Homo sapiens: one gene and its partner. The protein of the gene in region 2 interacts with the protein of the main gene of each other region in a biochemical or structural test. Each region holds a gene or a part of one and is shown on either strand. Other genes may lie near its edges.

Region 1 (7,857 bases), on a different chromosome or scaffold from region 2:
GCAATCTCCTGCCTGGGCTTCCAAAGCGCTGGGATTACAGGCGTGATTGTGAACAATGACGGAACACAATAAAAATTCGTTTTGTTTTCTTGAGGGTTAAAAAAAATCCAGCATAGATGGAAACTCTGGAAGAGGTTACATGAGTCAGTCTTGGAAGGAGAGATGAAACAACAGAAATTAGGAAGACCTAACATGGAGCTAGGCATGGCGGCAGCGCCTGGAGTCACAGCTGCTTGGGAGGCTGAGGTGGGAGGATCACTTGAGCCCAGAAGTTTAAGACCAGTCTGGGCAACATAGTCAACAGACTGTCTCTTTAAAAAAAGACCAAATGTGACACTGCTGACGATGAACTGTAAATATTAATATTATTGAATTCTACTTCCATTCTTCATTTGTTTTTTCTTTTACCCAAGCAGGCCACCATCATGGGCTCCTTGGAGGTTTTCAGAATCAGAGAGAGGGTGGGTCCCTCCATAAGCCACTTGCATAGTTCAGCATATCTGAGATTGTCCTCCAGGAGCACATTTCACATGAAGCCAGATGCATCCCTTTCCAGAGGAGAGAACGAGTTCAGTTTTGCCTAAGGAGACTGGAAGGGCAAGTGGACATTTGATGTTCTACTCACTCTTCTGTCTGTTTTTCACTGTTAAAGTCACTGACCAAACAAACGTCTAAGCACCCTTGGTCCACCAGCCTTTTGGCTAGGTGGACGGGATACCGGGATGAATACTGAAGCCTGTACCCTCACAGAGCTTACAGCCTGCTTGGAGAAACAGACCAGATACTTACAGTACCATAAACTGCTGTATTCATTAGCAAATATTTACTGAGTGTAGAATGTTCAGGTACTATGCTAGTCTCACTAGGGAATAGCAGTAAACAAAAAAAGCTCCTCTTCTCACAGACTTTCATTTTACTGGGATGAAACAAATAACTGAATACATATAGAGCTAGCTACATAATTACAGAGCCTGGTGCAAAATGAAAATGCAAGGCCCCTTGTTCAAGAAGTATGAAAAAGACATTTTCCTTTCTTCTGTGGTGTCTCCACCAGTCACAGTGTTTTTTATTTGCTACTTAATGTTATACTCTCTTGGCCATAGGGATACTTGCTGGGTGAGTGTAGACCCACAGGCACCTGGAGTCACCCTGGAACTCAGACTCCCCCCAGGCTTGTGCTAAAAGAGGGCACCAGAACATGAGTTGTTCAGGGAATAACAAATAGTCTGATATGGCAAGACCACAGAATTTCTCAAGAAGAAATTACTGATGAGGCACCGTTATAAAGAGTATGTTACTGTGCCTGTTCTTAAGGAGTTTACATTCCAGATGGAAAGATTAAAAGAATAACTATAAAACAGGGAAAATTAAAGAGCCATGGAGAAGGGTTAATAAAGTATAATGGAAGTTCCATGTTATCACATAGCTGATGGGGACAATCCTCTTTATGCCTGTGTCCTAGCATAAATAGGAATAGCATTCCCTTCTGTTCTCAGAAGTGTCTCAGTTCGGATGATAAATTATATATTCACTAGACATCAGTCTTTCTCAACCTTTTTTCTCATTACCATTCCCATAAAGAACCTTTTTAGATGTTTTTTCCCTGTTCACAATGCCATCCCCAGTCCCATGAAATTTTAATACCAGAGATATACTGTACATCTGTTTATGTACTGAGAGCCACAAACCACTGGAGCACAAACCATCTAAGATCTTTTTGTCTCCCAGGAACCCATTTTGATGTCATCCCATTGAGAATGACGCCCTACCCAAATGACATGATTGCATTGTCATTTCTAACTCAGAAGCTGTGTTGTGACTGACAGGTTGATAATGTTTACTATTTCTTCCTTAAAATTTTGTTAAATAAGCAGGCGGCCATTGGCTTGAAGCTGTCTCCACACTTTGAGTTCCTACCTAAGGAATTGTAAGGAACTGCAACCTAACGTGGTACACAAACTGAAAACCAAGCATGGTGTGTAACAAACCCCCAATTCTCAGCCAATCACAAGTAGCTGAGCTTCAGCCCACAGGCTGCCGACAGTGGCCAAATAATTCAAACAAGGAGCTGTAATCAGTCAAGCTATTTCTGTAACTCACTTCCCTTTTCTGTCTATAAAAACTTCCTGTTGGCTAGGCATGACTCACACCTGTAATCCCAATACTTTGGGAGGCTAAGGCAGGAAGATTGCTTGAATCCAGGCGTTCTAGACCAGCCTAGGCAACATAGGGAGACACCATCTCTATGGAAAATTTTTAAAAAATTAGCCAGGCATAGTTATGCACATCTGTAGTCCCAACTACTTGGGAGGGCAAGGCAGGAGAATCCCTCGAGCCCTGGAGTTCTAGATTGCAGTGAACCATGATTGTGCCACTGCACTCCAGCCTGGGTGACAGAGTGAAACCCTGTCTCAAAAAAACAAAACAACAACAACAAAAAACCTCTCTGGCCACGTTGCCGAGAGGAACTCATTTGTCTAAAGTTTTTCTTTTAAAATTTTCTCCTCTCTTGGTTTTGCATTCTCCTACTTCTTTTCCTACATTGCAGACTTTTTCCTCAGTCTCTTCCAAGTGACTTGACTTTGTTTTCCTATTTCCTTTATAAGCTCCTCCTGCCAGGCACGGTGGCTCACGCCTGTAATCCTAGCACTTTAGGAGGCCAAGGCGGATGGGTCGCCTGAGACTGGGAGATCGAGACCAGCCTGGCCAACATGGTAAAACCCCATCTCTACTAAAAATACAAAGATTAGCCGGGGGTGGTGGTGGGCGCCTATAATCCCAGCTACTCAGGAGGCTGAGGCAAGAGAATCGCTTGAACCTAGGGGTTGGAGGTTGCAGTGAGCCAAAATCATGCCACTTCACTCCAGGCTGGGCAAAAGAGCGAAACCCCAACTCTAAATAAATAAATAAGCTGCTCCTATAGGTCATGCTTTTCAGAATGTCAAGGAAGGGGCATCAGAAGGTTATCTGAAGTTTAAGGTATTTGTACTGAAAATGCAAAGGAACCAGAGGCAGTAGAATGTGTCTTCTTTCCTAGGTGGCGGTGATTCCCAGGTCTGGTTGATCAAGACTGCAATGCACAACAGGAACCTCAGAGAACTGTCACAGCAGCTCTCAGTGACACTTAGGATACAGATGCAGCTTAAGTGACCCTTTTTTATATCCATTTAGCACTCATTTTTCCCAAAAGAAGACCTGTTTGGGTCAATTTGTTACTGTCCCAGGGCAGGCTTTTGCACTGTGTCGCTTTAGAGGCAGGGGCGGAGGAAAACTTGGGACTGTAACATCAGTACTGCACAAAGCCCTCTTCCGTATACAGCATAAGCACTATTCTATAAAATCCCCAGCAAGCCTTTGTTTCCTTGCAGTCAGCTCCTTTTCTGCTGATTCTGCCCATTGCTCCCTTGCAACGTATTTTCATGCTTTCTCTAATGATTCTGCCTTTCTTTACTTACAACTGCCTTGGTAAATTTTTCTGCCACAGCGCCACTGGCCTCAGATAGTCACCACTCACCTGCAACAAGCCTGAGAGCCAATTAAGACAAGGCTTTCCCCAAGTAGCACAAATGTATATACCACTACTGTAGTTACTTAATGTACTCATTTATCATTTTAAAATTACCTTATGTACCATCAGTTACATGGTATAACTCTTACAGGAAAAACCAAATTAATGGAACTCTGCAATTCAATGTACCCCTTCCTCTGCCTCCAGCAGAAGCAACAGGGGACATAAATTCCAACTTTAGATGCTACTCTTATAGCATCTACAAGACTTACTACACTGTGTGTGTGTGTGTGTGTGTGTGTGCGTGCGTGTGTGTGTGTTACAGAGTCTCACTCTGTCGCCCAGGCTGGAGTGCAGTGGCGGGGTCTTGGCTCACTGCAACCTCTGCCTCCTGGGTCCAAGCGATTCTCCTGCCTCAGCCTCCCGAGTAGCTGGGATTGTACAGGCGTCCGCCACCACGCCTGGCTAATTTTTGTATTTTTATTAGAGATGGGATTTCACCATGTTGGCCAGGCTGGTCTCAAACTCCCTACCTCAAGTGATTTGCCCGCCTCGGCCTCCCAAATTGCTGGGATTACAGGTGTGAGCCACAGCGCCCAACCGTACTTCTTACACCTAAAAATGGTTCAAAACACCATAGAATAATTTTCAAAATAATTGAATTCTGAGTTAAAATTTTTCAGCACTTTCAGGGGCCTGAGCTTTTGCTATGAATCTGGATCTATTCTCAAGCCATGAAGTAGCGTATTTTTGACCATGTTGATTTGAAATTCATTCCGTTGTTTCCTTCTTTTTTAAAACCTAAGGGAAAAACAAACAGACATACACAGGATTTGAAAAGCTGGAAAGCAGTGGGTAGCGGCTCGGGAGAAGATGAGGGGTCAGATTAGAAGACGAGAAAGGAATCCAGTCCGCCCCAGACAGGACAAGTCCGGAAGGATGGAGGCAGCGTTTCCTTCCTCAACAGCCTAAACGCCTCTATTTTTTACATCCAAACTTAGGCCATATTTCTGCGGCGCCAAGAAAACGCAGTAAAAGCAAAGGCAAGATGTCCTTAAAAAAAAAAAAGGTCACATTCACAGAATACCGAGGAGACGGAGGCAGCTCTGCAACCCGTCCACTGAGACGCGGACACGCTCCCCACAGCCCCGGCCCCAGGCCCGCGCCCCTTCCCCCGCCGGCGGCTCGGATGGGTCGCTAGGGGTCGCTGCGCGCCGCGCGGGCGAGGACCGGCCTCTTTCCCCCACCTCCACCGTCTCGCTGCTCCGCCCCCGCGGCGTAGTCGGCGCCAAAATCAAACGCGTCCTGGCCTGTCCCGCCCCTCTCCCCAAGCGCGGGCCCGGCCAGCGGAAGCCCCTGCGCCCGCGCCATGGTAAGGACTGAGGCTACGGTCCCGCGTCTTCTTCCTCCCTAGTGTGTGGGCTTCGCCGCCCCTCGGCTGCATGTGGATCCCGGCCTGGCGTTGACCGCCATTCCGGGCCGCGGGAGCGGTCGCCCGGCTCTCGGCCTCACCGTGTAGGGGCCCAGCCCGGCCCCGCCGCAGCCACTCCGCACTCTGCGGCGTTCCCCGCCGCTCCTGTCCGGAGTCCCGAGGCGCGGGGGCATCCGCGGCCTCCCCGCCGGCTGCACCCCGCGTCTGTCCCCAGGGCCCGTTCGGGCGGGTTAGGTTAGAACGCGGGAAGCGTTCGCGAACGTGACCCGAGAACTTCACCAACCTGGATTTATCTAAAAGACCACGGGGCCCTTGAGAACCTGGGCTCCCTACGCCTCCAGCTTCGGCCCCGCGTGGTGTAGCCCCCCCCATTAAGAACGGGGAGAGAAAGCGCAAGTGGGCGGGAGGGACTGCGGGGAGCGAACGTCTTGATCCCAAAGCGCACTCCTGGTTTGTCACCATTGAGTGGTTTTCTGTATTGTAATATGTAGAGCACATTCCAGAACTGCTCAGTTTCGAGTTACCTAATGGATCTTCACTGTGTGCCAATTAGTCGATTTCTGTGAAAACGCCCCGGTTTCTGCCAAAGGGCAGGAGTCGCTGCTCTTGTGCCGGGTGCTGCTGGTTGTGTAGGGCGCTGTTGCTTTTTTAAGGACGCTCTGCACTGAATTAGGCTTCCTCGTGGGTCATGATCAGTTAAGTCCTGGTAAGATCGGCTTTGTGAGCTTAACGTCTTTCTGCTCATCAAATCATTTTCATAAACCTTCAAAGTTTCATGCCGTTTTTTCTGCTTCAGTTGGCGAAGAATCAACATCTGGTTAAATGGATCTAAGATTTTAATATCTTCATTTACTTACGTGGCCGTTAAATGTTGCCGAGCTAAGGGGGGCAGGGTGGGACACCAGGATCCAGTTGTATGGTATTTATTTGAAGATATTTGTCCAGATGTAGTTATAAATGATAACGGCTTCTTTGTGGTTAAACTAACAACCCAGCCACCTGGGCGTGAAGTGCTCTAAGGAGCCAAACAGGACTACAGTTAAAACAAATCTGTTAGCAGTGCCCTTCTGTGTTACAATTTTTCTCTGCAGAGTTGCTGGCCTCGTATAACTGACTTGGAGAACTGTGCAGCTCAAACGCGCGTTGTCCTTTTACCTAATCTATCTCTCTACACATGAATCACCTGCTAATACTAAATGTGTTAACTCTTTAGAAGCTTACCTCCGATAATAGAGAATCCTTTTAAAAAATTAAAGCTTTTGATAAGATGTGGACTTCCTATTTTTTAATATGTGATCGAGAAATAAATTTAGTGTTGGTCAAAGGTAAACTTTTGATTGATTATGAATTAATAGCTGTTTTCATTTGGTTAGGCATCCTAAGTAAATAGTTAATGAGTTCAGGCAATTTTTGAAATTGGAGAAGTGCAGTGCTGAACTCTGAGAGCAGCAGTGATGTCTACTTAATAATTCTTCATAATTTTATCGTAATTGATTAGTAGGGCTGGCTGTAGGAATTCCATAACTTCTAACTGAGAAGGTTCCTCAGATAACATGATTTTTTAAGTGGTTTAAAATACTTCCAGAAAGCTTCATAGTCCTTGAGTCAGGTTTTGAGTCTCCTGACTTACTAATTTGAATGCATCTCTAACTTATACTATCAGGTTTTTCCTAGTCTTAATTAAATATTAGATAAATCCTCATTGATTTTTTTGAGAAGTTTCTAAATATGAGTATTAATATGGCATCTTTTTACATTAGTTATTTTAATTCTGGCTATGATACTCCTACTGTGGTTAATAATAGAAATTATTTCTAGTCATGAAAGAGACTGATGAATAAATCAGCCTGAAAACAAGGTAAATGGATGATACAGCTCATCCACATTTCTTGAGTAACTTTCATAGCTGCTGAGCTGAGTGTTGAGAGCTTTCCTAAAACTGGGTACCCCAGGACGCTAGATTCTCCTCATTGCCTGCCTCTGGGGGGCAGATTCTTGTGGAGTGCAAGGAGCTGTTTCGAATATCAAAATGTTAGGAGTCTTTCCTAACACTTCAGGATCTGCTTTCTGCTAGTGCAGCGACACACTGAAATTCTAAAGGGATTCCCATTGCCCCGCAGCGCCCTTGACATGGCCTTCAGATTCTGGGCTGACAAAAGTAGGGTTCTCAACCCTGGGGCACAATTAAAAAATATGTTGGAGAGGATTTTTAAAATAAGTTGGAGGATTTAAAAAATATGTTGCCCAGGTCCCATTCCAGAGATTTTGATTCCATTCATTAGAGATGAGCCTGGGCATCGGTATTTTTTAAAAACTCCTGAGGTGATTCTAATGTATGGCAGTTTAGGACCTATTGGACTAGAAAAATATGTTGAAGGAGTCTTCTAACTGTTATGAATTTCATGCTTGATTTGTCAGATACTGCAGAGGTGAGAATGAAGGGAGGCAAATAGAGCAGTCCTGGACCCTAGCTCTCAGCCCTAGGTTTAGTGAGCAGATCTGTATGGGTTCCTGGAGTTTGCCTAACTGAGATTTCTCTGATTTGTCTCTTCAAGCCAGGCAATACATGATGTCACTGAATTCACTATGATTAATTCACCTGTTATATCTATGGGAGTATGGTAGGTGTTGGGGGGCTTAGGAGCCTGAGCAGCCTCAAATTTTAGAGTTGGGGGCTTTAGATACATGGTCCTAAAATTAAGAGCTTTATGTCTCCCTTGTCTAACTTGGCACTAAGCCCTGGAAAGGCAAAGGCAGTTCATGTTCTGAAGAAGTTTTTCAGTGTGCTGATACGGACAAGTAAACATCTTTTCAATGTAGTGAGTGATTTGATGAAGGTGTGTTCTGGGAATACATGCTTAGCCTGTGAACTCAGGGAAGTTCTGGAGGGAGAGTGCCTAAACTAAGCCTTGGGAGA
Region 2 (2,951 bases):
AAAGAGAGAGGGAAAGGGAGGGGGAAGGAGGGAGGGAGGGAGGAAAAAGGAAGGAAGGAAGGAGGGAGAGAGGAAGGTGGAAAGAAGGATGGGAAGAAAGGACAGGAAGGAAGAAGAAAAGAAGTCCATCCATCCCATCCATCATGCTTCTTCACCTGTCCAGTTTCTATCTATTATGGAAACCCATGATCTAGGTTTCCCCACCGTGGGAACAATGTTACTTAACTGCTTCAGCCCAGGTAGTGGTTTTATCACTAAATGGGAAGATTTCTGTCCTAATCAGTATCCTGTCAACCTAGTAGCTTAAGGACAAGCATTAGATTTCAGCTTTTCTTTCCTACCTTTTTAGTGGGGCCGCTCCTTAACTGAAAACAATTTCTCAAAAGTACTCTCCCACTATTTCTGCAGACCCTCTGGAGACTTTGGGGTGTGGCTGGTTCCTGAGCATATCCAAATGGTGCCTTCCCAGGTGTGTGTTCCCATCTTTGTGCCTCACAACAGTTCACTTGTATTTTCCCTCTTTGTCTGGCAGGACCAGTTTGACATGGTGAGTGATGCTGACCTTCAAGTCCTAGATGGCAAAATCGTGGCCCTCACTGCTAAGGTGCAGAGCTTGCAGCAGAGCTGCCGCTACATGGAGGCTGGTAGGACTGGGTAGCCCCTCCAAAGTGCCCATAGGCTTAGGTTCATTCTAGAGGTCAGGAATTACTAAATGAATGGTTCAATGACTGCAGCATCTTGTTGCAGCTAAGACCCCTTTGCTGGGCTCCCTTAGGCATAAAAAGAAATGTAGGATAACTAACGGCTTTTGTGTACCAACAAATGGACAAGATACGCATTTGTTCTCCCTGCCACGATTATCAGTACACTGTCCCCACGTTTCCCTTTATTCCTGCTTCTTTAACTGGCTACGCCTAAGTAAGTGTTCAACCTCACACCCACGCCACTTGTAGATGGAGGAGGAAAGAAAATTAGAAGAATAAATAATCCTGTATGGCTTAGTTTCCATGTGAGATGATAGATCCAGAGCAAGGTGGAACACCTCAGGGAGCACCCACTGGGAAAGACAGAACTCCTTCCTCAGGGGTAGCAAGTGACCCCAGGCGGATGTGGTTTCAGAGCTCAAGGAATTATCTAGTGCCCTGACCACACCAGAGATGCAGAAAGAAATCCAGGAGTTAAAGAAGGAATGCGCTGGCTACAGAGAGAGATTGAAGAACATTAAAGCAGCTACCAATCATGTGACTCCAGAAGAGAAAGAGCAGGTGAGCTGGAAGGCTGTAGGACCGCTGTGCAGGTCCAGAGTGAACATCAGGGCTGAGCCCCAGAGGGCTGCTGTGGTTCTGAGGAGTTAGAGGAACTTGCTTTTTCCTTCTAGGTGTACAGAGAGAGGCAGAAGTACTGTAAGGAGTGGAGGAAGAGGAAGAGGATGGTAAGTGTGTGGGAGCTCCGAGACAGGCCCTGGAGGTGCCTTTGAAAATGGCAGGCACCAGATCAGCCGCTACACAATATCATAAACTGACAGGCAGTGCCCAGTGCTGCCCATCTGAAAACGGGTGGTTTTATTTCTTGTCAGGCTACAGAGCTGTCTGATGCAATACTTGAAGGATACCCCAAGAGCAAGAAGCAGTTCTTTGTAAGTGGAGCTCTCTTCCTTCTTTGCTTCCCTGTGGTCTTATCCTGGTGACATCTCATTCACTTGTCTCCCTGTCTCACAGGAGGAAGTTGGGATAGAGACGGATGAAGATTACAACGTCACACTCCCAGACCCCTGAGGGGCCCACGGTCAGGACTGGTGGGGACTGCAGGATGTCAGAAGAGTGAGATGTCTTGCACTGGCTACCTTGTTTTTGGTTGGCTTTTGTTGTTGTTCCTGCTACTTTCACCTTTAAGCAGAGCAGTCAGGAGACAAGCATAAACCAGAGCACTGGGTAGAGAGGATGAGGGCTGGTGGCTGGGGGTAGACCCAGCCCATTTCATTGTCTAAATTGCAGTAGCTTGAGGTTAACATTTAGACTTGGAACAATGCTAAAGGAAAGCATTTGGCAATATTTATTATAATTTAATTTTATATAAAAATATTTAATTTCCTCTGGATAGTCAAACCTGCCAGATATCAAACCTGAGGAAGGCAGAAGTGAATTTGGAGAACTAGGGTAGAGAGAGGTTGCTATAAAACGAGCATTTGGAGGGCCCACGGCTTCACTCAGGACCTGCTGGGCTTGTGTACCCCAGGAGCCCTTTTAAGTATCTTTTGTACGCTTTTCACCCCACCCCCAAGTCCTGGGAGAAATGCAGGCAACACTGAGACATGGGAGAGGCCAAGATATGCTTGACAGAAAGGGTGATTTTGAGGCTCAGTTAATATTTCAAAATTGTAACCGTAGCAAAACTGCATTGGTATTTAGAAAAATAAAAAATTTCCAATATGTAGTGCTGTGTTATACCTGCCTCTGCCATGCAGCATCATAGCCTGTGGGAACCGGGAGGGCTTCCCTTACCACCCAGAGCAGAGGAGGAAGGTGATGGAATATGGGGTGAGGGGAGGAACCTGGTGGCCCCTCCCTGAGATGGCCAGAAAGCCCTTGGCCTCACCTGGGACTGACCAGGCAGCCCTAGTCTAGGCACAAGGTGCCCTTTCACCCTTCATGGCTGTGGGAATATTTCCTCTTACTCTTTTTCTCCCATACAGCTACTGCCAAAATGCCCAAACTTGGGCCAAATGTTGCCCAAACTTGGGCCAAAAATGTTGCCCAAGAGACCAAAACAGAGGAAAACAGTTTCCAAATCTATGTAGATCATGAGCAGAAATCTGAGGCTTGAATAAAGGGCTGAGAGGGCAGGAGCTCTTTGGGGTGTCCAGAGCAGACGCCCATCCCAAGGACTTCCATGGAGTGGGGGGAAGGCTGGGTAGGTTTGAGTTTTATCGTCAATATAATAAATTAATCAGA

The links. The genes of interacting proteins can lie anywhere in the genome.
Region 1: the proteins of PSMC3IP (region 2) and MND1 form a complex in vitro, tested with the Homo sapiens proteins (one study listed by IntAct).

Annotation. Positions count from the first base shown.
Region 1 is NC_000004.12:153,339,861-153,347,717, forward strand, and holds the start of MND1 (meiotic nuclear division protein 1 homolog), read left to right. Parts: upstream 1-4,827; 5' UTR 4,828-4,877; coding exon 4,878-4,880; intron 4,881-7,857. UniProt on the Homo sapiens protein: Required for proper homologous chromosome pairing and efficient cross-over and intragenic recombination during meiosis.
Region 2 is NC_000017.11:42,571,792-42,574,742, reverse strand, and holds the end of PSMC3IP (homologous-pairing protein 2 homolog), read left to right. Parts: intron 1-408; exon of another isoform or gene 409-427; intron 428-532; coding exon 533-644; exon of another isoform or gene 645-924; intron 925-1,119; coding exon 1,120-1,265; intron 1,266-1,378; coding exon 1,379-1,432; intron 1,433-1,539; exon of another isoform or gene 1,540-1,576; coding exon 1,577-1,636; exon of another isoform or gene 1,637-1,718; coding exon 1,719-1,775; 3' UTR 1,776-2,433; downstream 2,434-2,951. UniProt on the Homo sapiens protein: Plays an important role in meiotic recombination. Stimulates DMC1-mediated strand exchange required for pairing homologous chromosomes during meiosis.